Regions from separate parts of the Homo sapiens genome. Here region 2 is linked to region 1. The links come from fine-mapping of genetic effects on gene expression. A gene starts in region 1. The other region holds a variant in brackets. All regions are shown on one strand. Distances are from middle to middle.

Region 1 (2,907 bases):
GTATTTCAGAAAATAAGGAGGCAGGCTACTACAAACATTAATCCACTAGCTTTTTTTTTGTCGCTCAGGCTGGAGTGCAGTGGCACAATCTCTGCTCGCCACAACCTCCGCCTCCCGGGTTCAAACGATTCTCCTGCCTCAGCCTCCCGAGGAGCTGGGATCTCAGGTGCACGCCTCAAAGCCCAGCTAATTTTTTTATTTTTAATAGACATGGGGTTTCACCATGTTGGCCAGGCTGGTCTGGAACTCCTGGCCTCAAGTGATCTGCCTGCCTTGGCCTCCCAAAGTGCTGGGATTACAGGCATGAGCCACCGTTACCGGCCTCCACAGGCACTGAATAAAAATTATGTTTCCAAATAGGAGTTCATTGACCTTAGGGAAAATTTTTCATAAAAATAACTGTAGAATGAATTTTTTGCAAATTTATTTTTAAAAACGGTACCCCAAGCCAATGATTTTGTGGTTCCGTTTTCAATATCCTCGTTAAATTTCCCTACTGATAACAGACTCTCTCTGTGAAGATTTTTAAATTACAATGAAAATTAGAATACATAAAAATCCTTTAATATCCATAAGCATTTGCTTTGGTATGTTCATGATCAAATTAAAAATTAACTTTGAGACCTCACAGGTCGACAGCACAAGCTTCATTAACAAGAGTAACACACCATCCTAATGTCCACACAGCACAGAGGTAACTTCTCATTATTAAAAAGAACCATGGACGCATGGTTCTGAACCCTGCCTGCACTTGGCGGGAACCTGCGACACGAAAGCCTGGCCAGCCCTTGGAGCCATGCAGGGTGCGGTTAAGCCGCGAACACCATGTCCCACTTGCCTGCCTCGGGGCTTCTGCCTTCCAGACCGCAGCAGGAGGCAGAGGGGCAGGAAAGGCTGACCGGTGTCACCTTCCACCCACCCTCTGAGTGGGCCTAAGTGGGAAAGCAGCAGGGCTCACTGCAGCGCAGGCTGGTTGGCCAGCACATGCGCACGCTCCCCCGAACGGCAGGGAAGAAAAATTGAAACTCTCCTTTTAAGTTCCCTAAGTAGGAACTCGCGACTGCGCGTCAGCTTTTTCCCACGCTCCCGCCGAGCCGCGGGTTCCCTGCACCCGCCTCTGCCAGTCGAACTCCCTGGGAGCCCAGGCTCGCAGCCTCCCGCGCAGCCGCCGGGAATCCGTCCCGCAGCACCGCGGTCCAGCGCCCCCGGGCCCCGCCCCACCCCTCCCCGCCCCGCCCGCGCCCCAGGCCCCGCCCCGCCTCACCGTCTCACCATCCCCGCCTTCCCCGCCTTCCCCGCCTTCCCCGCCTTCCCCGCCTTCCCCGCCTTCCCCGCCTTCCCCGCCTTCCCCGCCTTCCCGGGATCGCCCGGCGCGTTCCAGCGCCCCCGCGCCCTCTCCACCTCCCGCTTTCCACGCGGCCCTCAGGCCCGCCTCCTCCGCCCTACCTTGGTCCGGATCTGCCCCGAGGTAGACACTTTGCGGATCAGTTTCTGGGGTCCCTCTTGCTCCGCTTCGCTGTCAGACGAATCCTCTCCCGGCCCCGCCGAGGCAGCGGCGGAGGTGACCGCGGCGCCGGCTCCGGCGGCCGCTCCTCCAGCGGCGCCCGGAGGGTGGTGCTGGCCTCCGGCCCCTGCCATCCTCTCCGACTCCTGCGGGGACACAGCACCGCCCGGCGGGGGCGGCGGCGTTGGTCAGCGGGTGGGCTCTGCCCGAGCGGAGCCCGGAACCCCGTGCCCGGCCGCCGCCGCCATCTTCCGTTTCCCTAGCTACCCCCGCGAGGTAAGGGTCGCCCGGGGCAGGCGCCCTCCAGGCAGGGGTCCACCCGGCTCCTCCGCTCGGTTCCCGCCGGAGCGGCGGCCACGGTGGGACGCAGAGGTAACGGACCCCCGCCCGCCTCGGACCCCTGCGCACCCAGCCTCGGATAGGACCAGCGCGGGTAGAGAGGATGGGGTGACAGGGTTTGGAGCAACATCTCTTCCACTCCCTTACGGTCTGGGTCCCTAGGATGGACAGGAGGGTGGGGGAGGCAGGAAACCTCTGCAGCCCACCCCGTAGTGGCGATGCCCGCACACCCCCTCTCACTTCTGGACAGCAGGGGCAACGCCGATCCCTGGGGAAGAATGGGAACCTGGAGCTTCCTCCCAGCACCCTTGGGTGCACCCGCCACCTCCTGAACCCCGAATCTCTCCAGAGACACTTGGGCCTCGCCGCGCGGTTCCAGCTGAATAAAAGTCCCCTCTGCCACCAAGACAGTCGGGGGCTGCCCCTCGTCGGTTTCCCCACCCCCAGCCCCACTCCGAGGACCGTACCTCTCCCGCCTCCGCCAGGGCCGTCGGGTCCCCTCAGCTCTCCTGACGGCGGCGTTCAGTTTCTGGCCCACCCCCACCCCCATCCGGCGCACACGGAAGAGAAGAGCATTTTCCGGGAGGTTCAGCTCCGCTCTGAGAACTTTTCGTTCAGAAAGAGCGATCCCCTTCGGCTAACAGGAAACTGGGAAGGGCGTGGAGAAAGCGCAGAAACAAGAGACTACACGCAGCCCAAGACGACAGAACGCACAAGAAGTGTCTAAGCTGAAGCGCTAACCGAGATTGCCTGGAAGAAAACAATACACTCGAGCCATGCGAACACCAGTACCCGAGACAAAAAGCCTTGGAAGTCCTGGCAGAGCCACTCCCTAGCCCGGACTAGAGCAGGAGGAAGTGGGATCAACAGGCTGTAGCCACCGCGCACAACTCCCCTGCAAGCTGGCTGCGCGGGCACTTGGGAACCGCGGACTGGCAGCGGGTTGTGCACGCTCAACGTCAAAGAAGCCTCACAGGTGTGAGGGGGCTGCGGTGAGGGGGCTGCGAGAGAAGACATTAAAACGACAGATCCCTCTTGTCATCCAAAGAGAACACCAAACTGGT
Region 2 (2,907 bases), 370 kb after region 1:
GTACATTTGAGCATCCTTTCATATGTTGCCATTTGCTCTTCCAAGAACTGCCTATTTAGCCATTTTTCTCTTAGGTTCTAGGAGTTTTATTTCCCTTCTTTTGTTTAAGTAGTGTTACTAAAATATTCCAAACATATATAAAGTGCTTAGGACAATGTCTGGCATGGGGGAAGAATTTTATAAATGTGGGCTGTAAAAAAAGAGAGAAAGAATGAAAATCCCTATGAGCATGGTGAAGGAAGATCCCAGGGTAACAGCCATGCACAGGCCTAAGATTAGAACAGATGACATTTCAGGAGAGATGTCTCTTAGAAATTGAAATTGATAAACCCAATATATATGAACATATTTAGAGATTTTAACAATTAGGGAACCTTGGGAATAAATTTGTACTAAATAAAACTAAACAAACAAAACATGATGCTTATTAGCTCCAATGAAAGCAAAAAGTTATACAGGAAAAAGTAATGATAATATAAGACATAGCAAAGCTGTGATTAGCATTTAGATAATTATAATAATATAAGCACTGGATGTTAATCCAAGCAAAATTATATGAATGTTTGGGGGGATGGGAAAATCGGGAGTGGGGGATTGGGGAATGAAAAAGAGTTAAACTCTCTTCTTGCTTGGGAGGAAGGCAAGAGATAATACCTGAAGCTGAAACATCAAGAGGGCACCATAATGATGAAGGTGAATACCACAGAAATAGCTTAAAAAGTTGAAAGTGTCTCTAGGGGGCAGGAAATGGTGGGGCGGCCGGGGGCGGGTAGGGGGTAAAGCAGGGCTGTTTGTTCTTTAAGCCTTTTTGATACTTAATTCTATGTGCATGTAGATCTCTGATGAAAATTCAAGCTAGAATAATTTTGTAAAGTAAACCAAATCCAACCATCTAATTAGTCTGGAACTAATGTATATCAGCCTTTTATAAAGAAATCAACTGTAAAGACTACTCTCCTGGTGGCTTTCACAATAATGAGGTAGCTTTTATTTAATGCAGATGGGGAGAAATTTATTGCTTTCTTCCAACTGTTTTTCTTCTAGCTAAATGCTAGCTTCTTTTAAACCACAGGTCTGAGCTCTTTAAACACAAAATAATGATTCTTGATTGAAAGCAGTACAATGTTTTTTTGAACTTTGGGTAAAATCAAAAATTTGGTATCAGCACAGTTTGGGGGCACACATCACTCTTTTTATCTGTGAACACAGAAGTGTGTTAAACCCAGTGATTAATAGGTGTACATCAAATTACAGTTCTAGAAGGAGTGACTTTTTAAATAGCATTTCACCTTCCCTCTGAAAATTGTCTTGGTTGTTTTGCCTGACAGTTTTTAATACCTCCTTCTAACCTTGGCACTGTGCATGTAAACTGTCCCCACTATTCATGGGAGCTATGTGATAA[A/T]CACTGCTGCAATGACTTCCCTTTAATGGTTAGTGAACTAATCCCTAAATACAACTTATACCTATCTTTGAAATCCACCTGGATTATAAATGTAATGGAAATTTACTGAGCCTCCATCCTCACTCCAGTGTTAAAACGTTTAAAATGGATGGATGAGGACTTGGCTAAGTTTGGAGGGAAACCTGGCCACAGTTTTCACTTCCTTAATTCAGTCAAGTATTCTGTTCAAGAATCTTTTTGTAAATATTCTTTTCTTCTGAGCTGACTTATTTTCAAATCAGTAAACATCAATTTTTATTATTTTTAAAGTGCTTACTGCTACTACCACCACTACCACCACCTTTACTATATTTCCCTGAAGTGATCTGTAGCCACAATTACCCTTCTCTGATATATGAAAATAGTTCTTAATACCAGGAGTAAAATTCTTGCTTTCTACTTCTTGAAATAGTAGACACTGTCATTATTGCATTTTCTCACCAAGGAATTAATTAGCAAAGTAAAAGAAAAGAAAGATATGGGAAAAAAAAGATATTTTAAAATAAGTTGGCTTACTTTGCTTTCACAGGCAATCTAAAAGTGCTGATGGCAGTAGCTCAACTTAATACTATTCCTTATTTGTAAAAGTGCCTCTAAGTGGCAAGCCAAAATATGAGTAAGTTAGTTAGCGAGGCAGCTCCACTCATCTCTATAGCTTCAGTAACTGGTCACTCTTGGCAGAGAACCCTGAGCTATAAATAATTCAACCTACTTCAGCTAGGTTCGAGCAGCAGGAATTGTTAAAAATGATATATGATACAAAACTTTATCCAAGATTGACCTTATATCACAGGCAGAATTTCCAATGCAGACTGTGTGTGGCTTACGATAAGCATATTCATTTTGTGCAAATGGCCACTTGAAGACAGCTAATCCAGCTGGGTGGTCAAATTACTATAGTAACTCTATTTTCTTACCCATTCCTCTCCTTGGACATTACCTTTTCTTCCTGCTGAGCTATTTGTCTCTTGGGACAACCCATGCCTAGCTCTGCAGCTCATACCTGGCCTCAGGACTGTGATTCCAACTCTAGAATCCTTTCCAAGTCCCCAGAGGCCCACAATGGTTTAATAAAAAGGAACTTTCCTCATTTTACTGTGAATGCCTCAAAGTCAGAGACCACATCTCTTTTCTGTATCCTCGCTGTTTCATATGATGTCTGGCGCAAAATATGCTCAAACACATTTGTTAAATAAATAGGAGATATGTCGAGTTTTTCAGCTGGCCTATTTAAAAACCTTCAACTACATGCATGAAATAAAAATGTCAAGTTTCTTGTTTTTTGTAAACTACATTTGATAAATTCAAATTTGAATTTATCCAGGACATCCTGGATACTTCATTCCAACCAGAAATTGTAATAAAAGATGGATGGATGGATGGATGGATGGATGGATGAATAGATAAATATATAATTCTAATCAGAAATTGTCATCAAAGATTAGATAGAGAAACAGACAAAAATC

Direction of the effects. Alleles are on the strand shown, and positions count from the first base shown. SD is a standard deviation of normalised expression in the study named.
As copies of T replace A in region 2, the expression in gastroesophageal junction of the gene that starts at base 1,764 in region 1 goes down (small effect, 0.33 SD a copy in GTEx).

Evidence for each region. PIP is the estimated chance that this variant, and not a neighbour inherited with it, causes the effect. A credible set is the group of variants that fine-mapping cannot tell apart.
Region 2: its variant is the best candidate, but not a certain one, in a credible set for the expression of DGKH in gastroesophageal junction (GTEx, PIP 0.89).

Annotation. Positions count from the first base shown.
Region 1 is chr13:42,047,505-42,050,411 of GRCh38, reverse strand. DGKH (diacylglycerol kinase eta) reads right to left here and starts at 1,764. Exons shown (of 30, transcript NM_178009.5): 1 at 1,447-1,764. The coding sequence starts at 1,638. RefSeq lists a silencer at 1,458-1,987 and an enhancer at 2,528-2,617.
Region 2 is chr13:41,677,711-41,680,617 of GRCh38, reverse strand. The region is part of intron 35 of VWA8 (von Willebrand factor A domain containing 8); the gene reads left to right. Among named protein-coding and RNA genes, the nearest start is that of MIR5006, 110 kb to the right of the region's middle. The variant A/T (reference allele first, on the strand shown) is at 1,403.